Regions from separate parts of the Homo sapiens genome. Here region 1 is linked to region 2. Evidence: fine-mapped expression QTL. Tissue or cell type: whole blood. Region 2 holds a variant in brackets; the other region holds the start of a gene. All regions are shown on one strand. Distances are from middle to middle.

What was found. PIP is the estimated chance that this variant, and not a neighbour inherited with it, causes the effect.
Region 1: LDAF1 starts here. The variant in region 2 is fine-mapped to the expression of LDAF1 in whole blood (TOPMed, PIP above 0.99).

Annotation. Positions count from the first base shown.
Region 1 is chr16:21,154,865-21,162,969 of GRCh38, forward strand. LDAF1 (lipid droplet assembly factor 1) reads left to right here and starts at 3,810. Exons shown (of 5, transcript NM_001301771.2): 1 at 3,810-3,882; 2 at 6,221-6,414. The coding sequence starts at 6,319. It also overlaps a transcript of DNAH3 not described here. RefSeq lists silencers at 3,690-3,819, 3,870-4,049 and enhancers at 4,307-4,807, 4,942-5,091.
Region 2 is chr16:21,342,141-21,350,245 of GRCh38, forward strand. It overlaps the pseudogene SNX29P1. Among named protein-coding and RNA genes, the nearest start is that of CRYM, 68 kb to the left of the region's middle. RefSeq lists enhancers at 5,154-5,713, 6,866-7,673, 7,674-8,105 and a silencer at 8,034-8,105. The variant G/A (reference allele first, on the strand shown) is at 4,401.

The sequences.
Region 1 (8,105 bases), 190 kb before region 2:
TTGTTTGTTGTCTGACAACTTTGTGTTGGATAATTCTTAAGAAAGGATATAGGCTTCAAGTTTCTCAATCTTCTTTTTCTTTCTTTCTTTTTTTTTTTTTTTTGAGATGGAATCTTGCTCTGTTGCCCAGGCTGGAGTGCAGTGGTATGATCTCGGCTCACTGTAACCTCCACCTCCTGGGTTCAAGTGATTCTCTTGCCTCAGCCTCCCCAGTAACTGGGATTACAGGCGTGTGCTAACACACCTGGCTTATTTTTGTATTTTTAGTAGAGATGGGGTTTTGCCATGTTGGCCAGCCTGGTCTCGAACCCCTGACCTCAAGTGATCTGCCCACCTCCGCCTCCCAAAGTGCTGGGATTCAGGCATGAGCCACCATGCCCGGCCTTGTTTCTCAATTGGGCTGCCAGACAAAACAGAAGGTGCCCAGTTAAATTAGAGTTTCAGTCAAACAATTTTTCAGGTAAAAGAATGTTTTAGGGCCGGGAGCAGTGGCTCATGCCTGTAATCCCAACACTTTGGAAGGCCGAGGCAGGCGGATCACAAAGTCAGGAGTTTGAGACCAGCCTGACCAACATGGTGAAACCCTGTCTCTACTAAAAATACAAAAATTAGCTGGGCGTGGCGGCACATGCCTGTAATCCCAGCTACTCCGGAGGCTTTGGCAGGAGAATCATTTGAACCCAGGAGGTGGAGGTTGCAGTAAGCCGAGATAGCGCCACTGCACTCCAGCCTGGGAGACAGAGCAAGACTCCGTCTCAAAAAAAAAAAAAAAAAAAAAAAGTTTTAGTATAAGCATGTCCCATTCAATACATGGGCTGTACTTGTACTTGTACTAAAAAGTTACCCATTATTTACCTGAAATTCAGATTTAATTGAGTGTCGTGTGTTTTTATTTGCCAAATCTGCCAACATGGGGAGCAGAGGTCAGCAAGGTTCCAAGTTGCCCCTGCCTCTTGTTATCAAGAGTTTAGGGTCTTAATCTGTTGCTAAAAAAATTTCACACATTTCTTATTCAGAGGCTGGTATTCCTGGCAGCTCATTCCTGAGGCCTAAAATAGTTGTTTAAGCAGAGCAACAGTTTCAATCCTTGGAGGCTACTATAGCAAAGTACCAAAGTCTGGGTGGCTTATAAACAAGAGACATTTATTTCTCACTGCTCTGAAGGCTGGAAGTTCACAATCAGGGTGCCAGGGTGGTCTGGTTCCAGTGAAGGCCCCCTTCCATGTTGCAGGCTGCCAACTTCTCATTGTATCCTCACATGGTGGAAAGAGGGTAAGAGAGCTCTCTGGGAGTTATTCTTATTTTATTTTATTTTATTTTATTTTATTTTATTTTATTTATTTTATTTTATTTTATTTTATTATTTTATTTTATTTTATTTTAATGAGCCAGGGTCTCACTTTGTTGCCCAGGCTAGAGTGCAGTGGTGCAATCTCAGCTCACTGCAGCCTCCACTGCCTGGGCTCAAGAGATCCTCCTGCCTCAGCCTCCCATGTAGCTGGGACTACAGGCATGTGCCACTATGCCCGGCTAACTTTTGTATTTTTAGTAGAGAAGAGGTTTCGCCATGTTGCCCAGGCTGGTCTCGAACTCCTAGACTCAAGCAATCCACCCACCTTGGCCTCCCAAAGTGGTGGGATTATAGGTGTGAGCCACTGGGATCTCTTTTATAAGGGCACTAATCCCATTTAGGAGGGCTTCACCTTCATGACCTAATCACCTCCCAAAAACCCCATGCCTAATCCCATCACATTGGGGGTTAGGATTTTAGAGGAACAGACATTCAGTCCATTGCAGCAAGTAATTGGGAAAGCATAGGAGAGGCTGCGCGTGGATTTTTTTAACCCAACCACTGCATGTTCCTTGAGGGCCAAGTCCTGATGCTATGGAGAGATGCTAGGATCCCAGCCCTGGAGGAACACATGATGTGATGGAGGAAGCATCTATCACACAAAGACAAGCAAAACTCTGCTGGCCCAGCCAAAAATGCCAGAGGTGGAAGGAATTTGAAGATTCACAGAGACGCCCCTAGATGGCACTCTTAAACAAAAATCCCAGTGGAAACCCTAACTCAGCTTTCCAAAGCAACTTCCATTTAGGGAATGATGATTGGAAGGCTGTAATCTAAGGAAACACACACACACACACACACACACACACAATCTTTTCCTGGGTGGGGAACCCAGCATTTTGCAGCTGAACAAAGTGCATGACGCCAGACAAGATTGGCTAAAACTTAAGAATTTAGGGATTCTTGTCTGTCCTATCCCCACCATTAGCTCTTCTTTCTGCTATTGTGGAATTACAGCAGGATTCTGTGGTTTATCATATCATTGTCGTGATCATCATCATAAATCATCATCCCAAGCAAATATTTTTGAGCCCCTACTCTGTGCCTCAATAGGTGCTAAGTTCTCGACAGCCACAGCCACACTATTGCACCAGTCCTCACTACAACCCTGTGATTGCTTCTTTTTTTTTTTTTTTTTTTTTGAGACAGGGTCTCACTCTGTTGCCCAGGCTGGAGTGCAGTGTCTTCACTGCAACTTCTACTTCCCAGGTTCAAGCGATACTTCTGCCTCAGCCTCCCGAGTAGCTGGGATTACAGGTGCGCACCACCATGCCTGGCTAGTTTTTATATTTTTAGTAGAGATGGGGTTTCACCATGTTGGCCAGGCTGGTCTGGAACTCCTGGCCTCAAGTGATCTGCCCACCTCAGCCTCCCAAAGTGCTGGGATTATAGGTGTGAGCCACCGCACCCTGCCAGCTTTTTGTTATCTAAAGACTTATTTTCCAGGTTGCTATGGCCACAGGCAAAGAGGAGAGGTCGGTCAACACAGGTCCCTGTCTGGAAAGTGGCTGAGAACTGTGCAACAGCAGACCAATGGTTGGGCTTATCCCTCTCTCTAATTTATGGTTGAAGCCATGGTTCAGAGAGGTTACTTAGTCACACAGTAAGTTGCCATCATGCTCTATAGCAGTGGTTCTCACCTCGGGACGATGGGGCCTTCCAGGGGACATTTGGCAATATTTTGAGACACAACTGGAGGTGGGGGGGGGCGGTTCTTGTAACTGGCATCTAATGGGTAGAGGCTAGGATATTGCTAAACATTCTACAATCCACAGCTCAGAAACAGAATTATTCCGCCCCAAATGTCAATAGCATACTATTCAGAAACCTTACTCTATAGGGCAGATTTGGGGCCAGGGGAAACAGGGGCTCCTGCTCCGACTTGGATCCATGCAAACCGAGGAATTTGGATTGATTTATCTTGTCTCTCTCAGCCTGGACTTTTTCATGTGTAAAATGGACATCCAATCCATCTGAAAGGATCTCACTGGCTTATGACATTCGCATTTGAGCAGTCATGGTTAAAAACTTCCAGCCAGGGTGATACTTCATCACGTGTGTGTCTTGAGCGCCAGAGACGTTCCAGAGCAGCTGGTTTTAGGCATACAGGAGGGGAAACCCTGACACCCTTGGAAAACTCATTCTCGGCTGCCAGTCTGCCTGTCTTGAAGGTGGTCTGAGCTTTCTCACTCCAAGCCAGTCGTGTGGGAAGGGACACTCTCTGAGCCTCAGTTTCCTCAGCTGTCAACCTCTCAGGGCTTGTTCTAGTGGCTCCGAAAGCCAGTGGGAGCGAGCGCGCTTTGCAAAGCCTTGGGCGCCGGGCCTTGGCGCGCCTTTGCCGGATCCTTCCGGCCACGGGCGGGGCGAGCCCAGAGGAGAAGAGCCGAGGGGCGGTGCCCGGGCCAGGGGGCGGAGGCAGGCGGCTCTGGCTCCCTCTCGGGACGCTCTTTCCTTCTTCCTCTTGTTCCTCCTCCTGCCTCTCTTCGCTTCGCCTGCAAACGCGGTGGGGGCTGCTCGGCGGTCAGGAGCAGGTGAGAGCTCGGAGCTTGGGGGTGGGGGTCCGGGTGCCCCGGGTGGCTAGACCCCTCTCGCCGGGCGGGGACAGAGGAGGAGCGCGGGGGCGACGGCGTGAGCGCGCTATCGGGGTCCCACGCCCGTAGCTTTCTGCCCCGGGGTTAGTGTAAGGGGCGTCTCCTGCTTATGAGTCGCCGGGACGGGGCTGGGAGCGCACGAGGAGACACGATTCCTCCCCACCCCTAAATGCACACTCACCCCGCCACCCCCCAACACACACACACATACACACACACACTACCACTAGATTAGGTAAAATGGTAGCTAGCACCACCACACCCCGAGACTGTGCCCCTTTCTGGGGAACCTGGGGAAGACGTCGAGGCAAACCTCCCTAGGATTATTGAAAACGGGCGCCTTCCTCACCACCCAGCCCCTCTTCTCCACCGAGGTCCCCTTCCCCATCGCTGCAGAGAGATCTGCAAGTATCAAAGGGGGCTTCTTTACCCCCAAATTAATAACTAAGTACTCGACTCCCCTCTGAGTTCCCATTATTCAGTCTCTGTGCCTTCTGGGACGCGGACCCCCTCTCCACCTGCATTTCACTCCCTTCCTCCTCTCCTTGGGTCTCCCTGGCTTTTGAACGCTGAAAGGCTGGGCCCGGATGGGGAGGGGCGGCCAGTGTGAGCTCGAGGCGCCCTGTAGCTCCCATCCCCCAACCAGAGATGTGACCCCTCCTCCCAGCTTGAACTTTCGAGGTAGCCGTTTTCCCCTGGAGGTTCGGGGGTGGGAGGGCCAGGAGATTTATTTGGAGCCTTGGAAGGGGAAAGGGTTAGCTGGTGTTGGCCTGGCCCAGTCCCCCAGGCGTGAAGAAGGCGGGGCACTCCTTGGCCGCGCCGGGTTCTCGCTTTCCCTTCTCGGGAGACAGCTCCGTGCCTGGGGAGGCCCCTCCGAGGAGTGAGTGACCAGGGGGTCTGGGAATTGGTGGCCAGGTAGACGCATTTGAAGGCTGTGGCCGATGGCATTCGCCCCACGCACTCTCTCATCGGACTCCCCAAACCGGTCTGGGTGGCACTTGAGGCTCCCAGGCCAAAGGAGACCTGTAAGGGGAACTCCGCTTGTTTCTGCTTGCTGCAGAGATGAGATTATGGGAACTGAGTGCTGGGAACATCCCAAGTTCAAGACCTACGCCAGAGGCAGCTTCAAAGAGAGAATGTGGGGTGGTGGGATTAGTCCCCTCCTCAACTTTCCCCTCCAAAGGGTTTCTTGTTTTACAAAAGGGAAGTAGCAGAGGATGTCTAGCTGGGATGATTAAAATGTGCTTTAATTTGCATACTAGACCCTGTACAGCTTAGTAGTAGATAAAATTACCCCCTATATGATAAATAAATGTGAGGATCTCTCAATTAATTTTGGCCACGTGGACACAATCTTTTAAGCATTTGTACTGTAGGTCAGGTCAGTTTAAAGGGAGAAATGGAAAAGATATCTCTGTGTCCAGCCAGTTCTGGGAAATATAAAATAAGAATGATTTTTTTTTTATATTTGAAAACTCAACAAGGGTTAAAAAATATATCTAATTTAACCAATTGCCTTTATTAAAAATAAGTAAAAATTGTATGAGATTGGGACACCCCTCAAAATTCCAGGCAGTTTAGTTAGAGTATAATTACTGTGGTGAGGTCTGCCCCCGAGGTGCAGTTCTCCTTAGCAGGGATAGACTTACCCACAAGTAAGTAGATGATGATGTATGGAATGATGGAATTGGGAGCCAACCTGTACAGTAATAAAGAAGAGAAACAGGTCAAGGCTACTGTTGTACAAGGAAAGCTTTCTAGGGAGAATAAAAGGCAATGAGATTTGAAATAGTGTGTTCAGCTTTCTTGCTTTCTGTATATTTTCAGCATTTTGTCAAGCTAAAAAATAAACATAAGCTGTCAGAGATAATACTATTAACATTTTATCATCTTTTTTTAAAAGTATCATACACATCTTTTCACATCACTAAACAGTCACACTATCATTTTAATGACTGAATTTATCATTATTTAACCAATTTTCTCCTAATGGAAATACAGTTAGCTACTTTCCAATGTTTTGCTAGTCATTATATGTTATAAACAGGGATGCAATGCACAGCCTTTTAGTACATTTTGAGATACCTGTTGGATTATTTCCATCATGTTCCTGGAATATAAATTCCTGGATTGAAGTGTGTGCAATCTGAAATTGTTGTGAATATTGCCAGGTTACCCTCCGTCTGCATGCCCACCATCAAGGTATGAGGATGGTAGAAGCTCTCGTCGAACCAGATGGATGAAGACCACTAACGGCTTTTGTTTCCTCTGGTAACAGCAAGAGACAGAGCGACATGAGAGATTGGACCGCGGGCTGCACTGGAGAATTTACTGGTAGGATAATTCATCCCTAAAGAGATTGAAGTGAGCTTCAGAATGGCAAAAGAGGAGCCCCAGAGTATCTCAAGGGACTTGCAGGAACTGCAGAAGAAGCTGTCTCTGCTGATAGACTCCTTCCAGAATAACTCAAAGGTCAGTTTCCAATCACTATGTATAATGGAAAATCCCAATATAACACTAGCATAAACAAGATAGAAAGTTATTTCTTTCTCCAGTAGAAGGAATTTGGAGGTAAGTCAAGAATCTTTCTGGCTTACCGCCCTGCCATGTCTATGCTGTGACCTTCAAACTCCTTGTCTGAGATGACTGCAAGAGCATCAGCCATTGTATCCATCTTTCAGGCAACAGGATTTGAGGAGGGGGGAAGAGAGAAGTGCAAGCCACCTACAATTTAAGGAGACTTCTGGGAGTCGCACACAATACTTCCAATTACATCCCTTAAGCCAACATTGAGTCATTTGCCACTAATGGCAAATGCAATTCTTTAGCTGGATAAAGAAGTCTGTGCAACAGATATCATCCTTTTTTTGGTTTTGTTTGGTTTTGTTGTGAATTTTGCCCTATCTGTTACCCTGAAAATGAGAGACAAAAGCCTACTTCAAGATTTGAGTTCATTGTTCCACTAGGAATCCAGGTCCGATAGAAATATGATGTGAGTCACGTATGTAATTTAGAATTTTTCTAGTAGCCACATGTAAGAAGTAAAAAGAAATAGGTAAAATTAATTTTGGCTGGGCATAGTGGCTCCCGCCTGTGATCCTAGCACTTTGGGAGGCTGAGGTGGGTGGATCACTTGAGATCAGAAGTTCGAGATCAGCCTGGCGAACATGGTAAAACCCCATCTCTACTAAAATTACCAAAATGAGCAGGTGTGGTGGTAAGGCCTGTAGTCCCAGCTACTCGGGAGGCTGAGGCAGGAGAATCACTTGAACCCAGGAGGCGGAGGTTGCAGTGAGCTGAGATTGTGCCACCGCACTCCAGCCTGGGCGACAGAGCGAGATTCCGTCTCCAAAAAAAAAAAATTATTTTTAATAATGTTTTTATTCAACCTAAGATATCAAAAATATTTCAACATGTAATCATTTATACAAAATTATTAATGAAAAAAGATTCTTGAAACATTGTACCTTCTTTTTTGAACTCCCTCTTCAAAACCCCCCGTGCGCATATTTTACACTTCTAGCACATTTCAATTCGAGTTAGCCACTTTTTAGGTATTCAGTGGCCACTCAGTGGCAATGAGACTTCAGATAGCGTTATGTTTTCTTGCATATTTATCCTTATTGCTTTCTTCTATATGTCTTTCAGCATTTTGTCAGGGAAAAGAAAACAGCTTTCAGAGATAATACTGTTAACATTTTGTATGTCATTCTAGACCTTTTTTCTATGCAATATACCTATAAAAATACATATGTATATGTAACAAAATGAACTATTTTGTGGTGTATTTTTTTTTGTATTGGATAGCACAGCGGGTCTACTCGAAGAGATGCTTGTTTGCAATCTACAACAATAAATTCTGGACTTGCTCCAGAATTTATTTGGCACTCTTTGTGGATTTACCAAGCTATTTTTAAATTGGACAAGCAGCTTTCTCGCCAGCTGGCGGGGACTCTTGTTATTAAAAGTTAGCTCAGTAAGAAGGGTCCTCCTGCCTGTTCCACATTTACAGCTGATTCTCATTAACCATGGTAGTTACGTTCTATAAAGTTACTGCAGACACTGAATTAGCACATACCAAACCATCGCTCCTAGGGGAAATACAGGATTCAGTTGCTGTGAGCCTCCTGTTCACAACATTTTTGTCAGCTGATCAGTACATA
Region 2 (8,105 bases):
AATACTATACAAAAGCTCTTCTGTCAAGCTTCAGCCCCTCTTTGTGTTGGTATTTTTGCAAATTACATCTTTATATTGTGTGCCTATTAACATGTTTATCATTATTTTATGCATTTATCTTTTAAATCATATAGAAGGAAAAAGAAACCATTATCATAACACTGGCTTTTATATCTGCCTATGTAGTTACCTTCACTGGAGCTCTTTATTTTTTCATGTGACTTCATGTTACCATCTAATGTCCTTTCATTCAGCTGAAAGAACTATATTATAGGGCAGGTGTATTAGCAAATTTTCTTAGCTTTTGCTAATCTGGCAATTTCTAATATCTCCTAATTTTTTTTTTTTTTTTTTTTTTTTGAGACAGAGTCTTGCTATGTTGCTGAGGCTGGAGTACAGTGGCCTTTCTACTACAATGAGGAATTCTGCCTTGGGACTTGAGAGAGGTAGCAGTCCTAGGGTGTGGGTTAGGGGCATTCACTGAAATACCATGTAGCAGCGTAACCTGTGGCTATTGAAATGTGGCTGTAGGAATATTGCTCATGACTTGACTTCTGCTCTTGAATATTCATAGCTGGGCAGCAGAGAGCGATGTGAGGACTATACTTATGGCATGATACCATTTTTATTGCAAATATATAGGTATATGTGGAAGTTGATTAAAAATTTATGTGTGATCATTTTTACAGTGCCTATCTCTAGGTAGTAGGATAATTTTTATTTTTCCCTTTGTCTTTTATTGTAGTTTCTCAGTTATTTCCAATAAGCACTGCATTAATTTTATAGTTGTAAAAAATGTTGTTTAAAAGTCAGGGAGCCCAGGCGTGGTGGCTCATGCCTGTAATCCCAGCACTTTGGGAGGCTGAGGCAAACTGATCACCTGAGGTCAGCAGTTCGAGATCAGCCTGGACAACATGGTGAAACCCCGTCTCTACTAAAAATACAAAACTTAGCCAGGTGTGGTGGCACATGCCTCTAATCCCAGCTACTTGGGAGGCTGAGGCAGGAGAATTGCTTGAATCCAGGAGGTAGAGGTTGCAGTGAGCTGAGATTATGCCACCGCACTGTAGCCTGGGTGACAGAGCGAGACTATATCTCAAAAAAAAAAAAAAAAAAAAAAAAAGCCGGGTGCTGTGGCTCACATGTGTAATCCCAGCACTTTGGGAGGCCAAGGTGGGCAGATCAAGAGGTCAGGAGATCGAGACCATCCTGGCTAACACGGTAAAACCCCATCTCTACTAAAAATGTCAAAAAAATTAGCCGGGCGTGATGGCGGGCGCCTGTAGTCCCAGCTACTCGGGGGGCTGAGGCAGGAGAATGGCGTGAACCTGGGAGGCGGAGCTTACAGTGAGCCTAGATCACGCCACTGCACTCCAGCCTGGGCTACAGAGCAAGACTCTGTCTCAAAAAAAAAAAAAAAAAAAAAAAAAAAAGTCAAGGAGAGGAGATTTCTGTCAGGCACAATTTCTGTCAGGCACAGTAGCAGGAACCAGATTGAATTCTCTTGCCATTGAAATCTGGACAAAAATCTGTGAATCGGCTGTCCTAAGACATTAGACAAGCAACAGCACAGGACCGTGATCCTGAGAGAAGGAACATGAGAGGAGGGGACAGGGAGATGCCAGGCAGAGATAGCTACATCACTGCATGGAGGAGATGGGTTGGAGTTGAGAGAGGCTGAGGCAGCAGAAAGTTGTGGAATCAAGTTCTTAAGAGCAGAGGGTTACACGGGGACCTTCTTGGGTGTTTGGGGGATTCCAAGGCAGGCATGAGCTCAATGGCTCCTAAGCTCACCCCAGGCTGGGTGGTGGTTGGATTCCCACTAGCCAGAGTCCTCAGTGATCAGTCACTGCACTAGCTGGCCATGCCTACTGGCAGGCTAAACTGTCCCTAGAATAAAGGCAGAGCTTAAGAGAGCCTGAGAAAGATCACATTAAATCACAAGTAACAACACTTTTAAAAGAAAGACAGCAAAACCTAGACACCCAACAAAGTAAAATTCACAATCTCCGGTATCTAGTCCAGAGTACCAGGAAGCAGGAGATTGTGACCTATGATCAGAAAATCAGTAAATAGGAAGGGACCCTGTCTGGAATTAACTGACCAGGACATTGAAATCTATTAAAATTACATTCAGGAATTTAAAGGAAAAAAGGAACATAGCAAGGAGAGAAATAGAAGACATAAAAAAGAACCGTATGGAACTCCTAGACTCGAAGAGCGAGGAGAGTTGCTGCCAGGCTTGCCTTCCATGTGTTTCGGGTACGTGCATTTGGTAAGGTTAGCGGTCTGCTTCATCCAATGGGGAATCAAAACCCAAGTTAAATGACTTGCCAGGACCTTAGTGAGCAAGAAGCTGCTGTTATATAACCTGACGACTGCCAGATATGTTGGCCTGCGTCATTAGGATACCAGAATCTTGAAAGGGTAAATTTAATGAGCTGAAATTTCATAGCTGGAAATGTAGACTCAGAACATTTGCACAGTAGTAGACGGTGGTGTAACATTGTGTGAAGCCGAGTGTTTTGCTGGCTGCGCTGGTGTGCAGGAGCTTCCTCGGAGCCCTTGTGGTTGGAAGGTGCACTCTGTAGCACACCCATTCTTAGCTTGTCTACCCTGTGGCCCCAGTGGAGCGTTTTGGAGCTGCTGGGAGGAGCTGTCCAGGGACAGACTGTCATGGTGGCAGTGGGCTGGAAACTGTTGTCTTTGGGGAAACGGTTAGAAATTGAGATTTCACAAGGTTTGATAATGGTTAGATGCCTGGAGAAGCAGCACATAAGTGAAGAATTAGGCTGGTTTTGTAGGTGCTAAGAGGGTCAGTGGAGGAACAGCAGCTCCGCGGAGGTGGGCTTCAGCCCAGCTGGGATTTTGTCATTTTCTTCCTGGGGTGCACAAGGCTTGCTCGAGGACCTGTGGTGGTGAGTGCTCTGTAACTGCTCAGGCGGACAGGAAACCGCCGTGGAGCACGCAGCACTGCCTGGCGGTGGTTGCTTTGGGACATGACCCATCACTGGAGGTGCTCAGGTGGAGTCAGGGTCTTTGGCTGGAGCCAAGCTCTCCACATGCAGCATGCAGGTGGGCATGTTGAATCTCCTTTGAATCTCATGAATTTGAGATTCTGATTTAGTGTAGCTAGGCAATTTCTAGCATATTGCAAGTATCAACATTCTGTTATGTGGCTGGGCACAGTGGCTTACACCTATAATCCCAGCATTTTGGGAGGCCAAGGCAGGCGGATCATTTGAGGTCAGGAGTTCAAAACCAGCCTGGCCAACCTGGTGAAATCCCTTCTCTACAAAAAAATACAAAAAAAAAATTAGCCCAGCATGATGGTGGGTGCCTGTAATCCCAGCTACTTGGAAGGCTGAGGCAGGAGAATCGCTTGAACTTGAGAGGCGGAAGTTGCAGTGAGCCAAGGTCACACCACTACACTCCAGCCTGGGTGACAGAGCAAGACTCTGTCTCAAAAAAAAAAAAAAACCAACATTTTATTGTTACTTTAAAAAATGTATTCAGTGGAATCTATGTACTATGGCAATTTAATACCTACCATTAGCTATTGGTAAAAAATACATGGAAAGCTTTTCTCTCCCCTTCCCCTCTCCGCCCCTCCCCTTCCCCCTCTCCGCCCCTCCCCCTCCCCCTCTCCGCCCCTCCCCCTCCCCTCCCTCCTCCCCTCCCCCCTCCTTCCTTCCTCTCTCTTGCCCTCCCCTCTCTTGCCCCTCCCCGTCCCTTCCCCCGCTCACTCTGTTGCCTGGAGCTAAGTGCCATGGTGCCATCTCAGCTCACTGTAATCGCCTACTCCCAGGTTCAAGTGATTCTCCTACTTCAGCCTCCCAAGTAGTTGGGACTACAGATGCGTGCCGCCACACCTGGCTAATTTTTGTATTTTTAGTAGAGACAGGGTTCACCATGTTGGTCAAGCTGGTCTCGCACTCCTGACCTGAAGTGATCTTGCCTGCCTTGGCCTCCCAAAGTACTGGGATTACAAGCGTGAGCCACCACGCCTGGCCCGCTTCTCTTTAATAATCAGAAATTTTATGTCTTTCATTTTTCTCCTTTCATTCATATCAACATTCTACTTCTCTCACAGAATTTCATCTTTCTGCTTCCCTCCCCTGTCCCCTCGAGATGGAGTCTTGCTCTGTTGCCCAGGCTGGAGTGTAGTGGTGCCATTTTGACTCATTACAACCTCCGCCTCCCAGGTTTAAGTGATTCTCCTGCCTCAGCCTCCTGAGTGCCTGGGATTACAGACCCCCACCACCACACCTGTCTAATTTTTGTATTTTTAATAGAGATGGGGTTTCACCATGTTGGCCAGGCTGGTCTTGAACTCGTGACCTCAGGTGATCTGGCTGCCTTGGCCTCACAAAGTGCTGGGATTACAGGTGTGAGCCACC[G/A]TGCCCAGACTACATTTTTATGCTTAAAAGCTTTTTAAAATTAGTCATTATAATTCTCTGCAACAAAACTACGTGTATACAATGAAAATTAAAGTTTTTCTGTGCTCTTAATATTCTAAGAGTTTAAGAAAATTATGATTGAGACATCATTACAGTGAAAATTAATACACAGTACATCAAAGCAAATGTATCTCATTTTGATTAAACACAGCAAGTAAAATTTGTTGGAAATGTATCTTTAAGTGCGTGGATGAGACTTTTGCTCTATTAGTTTAATTACCCATGGACAAATATTGCCAGCCTGAAACAGCTTTTAATGTCCACTTTAAGAACTTCATTCATTTAAATAAGTTGGGACTAAAAGGGGTTTTGTCATAGCAGCATCACGCCACTCTCAGGCCCTTCTGCATTCCATGTCGGAAACCTCAGTTCCTAAGACTCACTCGTAGTGATCTCTGCAGAAGAGTGGAGATGCAGTGAGCCGAGGAAAAATGAAGCATTTCCTCTTCTCTGCTGTGGGAGTCGAGAGTGAGGGACGGGGGTGCACACATGCTGCACAAGGCAATGCCTAAGAAACTTCTCGTTCACCCCGTTCACACCTGTTGCCCCCACAGAGCCGATGATGAGCACCCCACCTCCTGCCAGAGAGCTCCTGCAGCCACAGCCGCAGCCGCAGGCCCTGCACTACGCGCTGGCCAACGTGCAGCAGGTGCAGATCCACCAGATCGGAGAAGACGGACAGGTGCAAGTAGTACGTACCCTCTCCACCTCGCACCTTGGGAAAGGGGGCTGCGGGGTGGGCCACGGCAGGGCCCTGGCGGCTTCCACCAGTTCCGCTGTGTTTCGGGAGCACAGTGATAGCTTGGGAGGAGGCACAAGGTTCCCATTTAAAGTAGAGGTCATCATGGCCATGAGCTCTTAACATTTCACAGGTGGGGGCGGCTGCTGCAGAGCCTAGGGATTGAAGCACATGGTGGGGTGGGGCGTTCAGTCAGCTCACCTCAGTCCTGCCAGCAGGCAGGCGGGCAGTCAGCTCCAAGGGTCAGGCTGTGCAGTGGTCCCTGCCCCAGCTCGTGCTCCTGGGAAGCATCGGAAATATTTCTCAGCTCAGAAGTGCAGGCGTCCTCTTACTGAGGGAAAGAGTAATTTCCTTCTAGGATCAGTGGCAAAAGCTTGAGGTCATTGTTCCCATGCAGCGTTTCCCTTGGAGTTACTCAGCACACCCAGGTTGGGCGGGCACTGTCCCAGCAGCAAGTCAATGTCCTGCCTTGCCCATGCGGAGTTCTCTGTTGGGGTTTTGTGACCCAAGCTGTGGTCAGTCTGATGCGCCTAGGGGCTCGCTCCCGGGTGAAGTCCCTCTACAAACACCTCCTGGATTCTGTGGCACGAGAGTAGGGGGCGGCTGAGAAGAAGACTTTTCTGGAAGCTTTGCTGAGTGACTAGAAATTTTACATGCACCACTAGACATCGCCTATGTTTTTAGTGGCACCAGCCCCCTTGGGCCCTCTGAAGACAGGTCATCGTGTGCCTCCGTGTTACCAGGGCTTTCTCCTGGAAACAAGGTCCTCCACTGTTGAGAGTGGGTCGTGGCTCTCATCTCAGTGTGGCTTCAGCGTGCTGTCTGGAAGAGGGAAGGCTTCCAGAAAATTCTGGGGCTTTTAGAGGGGGCATTACCCTTCCTCTTCCAAAGGAGATGAGACAGTTATGAATAGTGAATCTTATTTAATAAGCTTATTAATTTATTTGACATTCACAATGGCAGTTCCTCTCATCTTGTTAGTAAGAAGTTCTTTGAAAGCGTTCCAGAGTAGATAACTTTGTCATAAGGCTTACATAGAACATTCTACAGGAGTTTAAGATCCATTTCGACTAAGAGAGAATTTCAAATAAGATAAGTATTCATTTCATTTACAGGTTTATAGGAAATATTTGTCTGCCCATATGTATAAACAGTGGATTCTTTGATTTTTTTTGAATCACATTTGTTAGTGTTTCCTCAAACTGTTTAAATAGTCATATGAGTGTTTCTTTGATTTGAAAAATGTTGCCTGCCCTGTTGTGAGTGTAGGCACGCAAACAGCTCCCCTGCTTCAGCCATACACTGCTTGCGTAGCCTCCCAGCATCCCCAGAGAGCTGAACGTATCATTTGAAAAGAGGTGTCATTGTGATTTTCTATTTCCCCTCTTTTCTGTGTGTCATGCACATTTTAAAATTTACTTGTTTAGTAACATTTAAAGATGTATATATCTTTCCTGGGACCTATTGCTCCTTTGTGAAGTACTGGAACATGTTCTGTGTTACACAGTACCCCCCCTTACCCATGCTTCCACTTTCCTAGGTTTTAATTACCCATAGTCAACTGTGATCTGAAAATATTAGATGAGAAACTCCAGAAATAAACAATTTGTAAGTTTCAGATTGCATACTCTTCTGGGTAGTAGCATGATGAAGTCTGATCGTCCTGCTGTGTCCAGCCTGGGACGTGAGTCATTCCTTTGTCCAGCATGTCCAAGCTGTGTGGCACGTATGGGCAGGAAAAAGCATAGCATATACGGGGTTCCGCACCATCCACGGTTTCTGACGTCCACGTGGTGGGGGGAGGGGGCGCTTCTTGAAACCCTCATGGATGAGGGGGACTACTGTGAACCAAAAGCTTAATTTAAAGAGGTGACCACAGACTATATTGCACTATTCAGGATTTAGTTATCTTTTTGAATTGTAAACAGATAATCAAGAACAAACATTCCGGAAGATGTTTCTTGTTTCCTTTGCTTTTTATTTTCTTCTGATGCTTCTTGGTGTCTTTTCTTGCTGCGGATCCCACAGGGACACCTCCACATCGCCAAGGTGCCGCAGGGGGAGCAAGTCCAGATCACGCAGGACAGCGAGGTGAGTCATCTCTCGCTGCAGCCCTGTCCCTGCAGGCACTGTGCCCGCATGCTCCTGACCTTCATCGGTGTCACAGTGCGAGGGCAGCAGGGAGCCCCCAGGATGGGGAACATGGGCGAGGGCTGCAGGACTCCGCTTCCAGGGTGCACATAGCAGGCCTGCAGTCTCTGTGGCCTCACTGCCTCCCCCTCCTGTCCGTTGGTCTCCACAGCTTCTGGTCTGTCTTGGCAAAGATCTCCTGGGTAGATGTTTCTGCTTCTGGCTCGAAGTGCCCTCTGAGTACCCTTCTCTCCCTGTCTGGCCCTGCCCTTCCTGCCAGGGGAGGGCCCCAGTGTGGCCGAGATGGGGTCTGCCCCTGCACAGGTGACCTGACATACCCCCTCACCTGCCATGTGGCCCCAGCTTCCTGGTGGCCTCTACGGGATTAGTGCCGATTTCATAGGATGGTGGGGAATCCCACAAGGTGATGCTGCCAGTCCTGAGAGCTGGTCATAGCCCTGACGCACCTGCCATGTCTGTGATTGTCTCAGTTTCTGGAGCTCTACCCAGCCACGCGCTCAGAAGTGCGGGCTCAGCTGCTGTTGGGGTCTGGAATGTGAAGGCGGGAGTGACAGTCTGAGTTCTTGGAAAGCCGAGGCCGGCCGGTTGCGATGCTCCGTGTTTGCGTGCCAGAGCAGGACTGTCTTCCGGGTGGCTGGTGACCATCCTTCGACTCTGGGCTGTTTCCTGCAGCACAGGCAGCAGCAGGCACAGGGCAGTAAGCAGCGCACACGTGCTGTACTGAGTGACCGTGGTGCGCTCTGGGGGATGAGGAA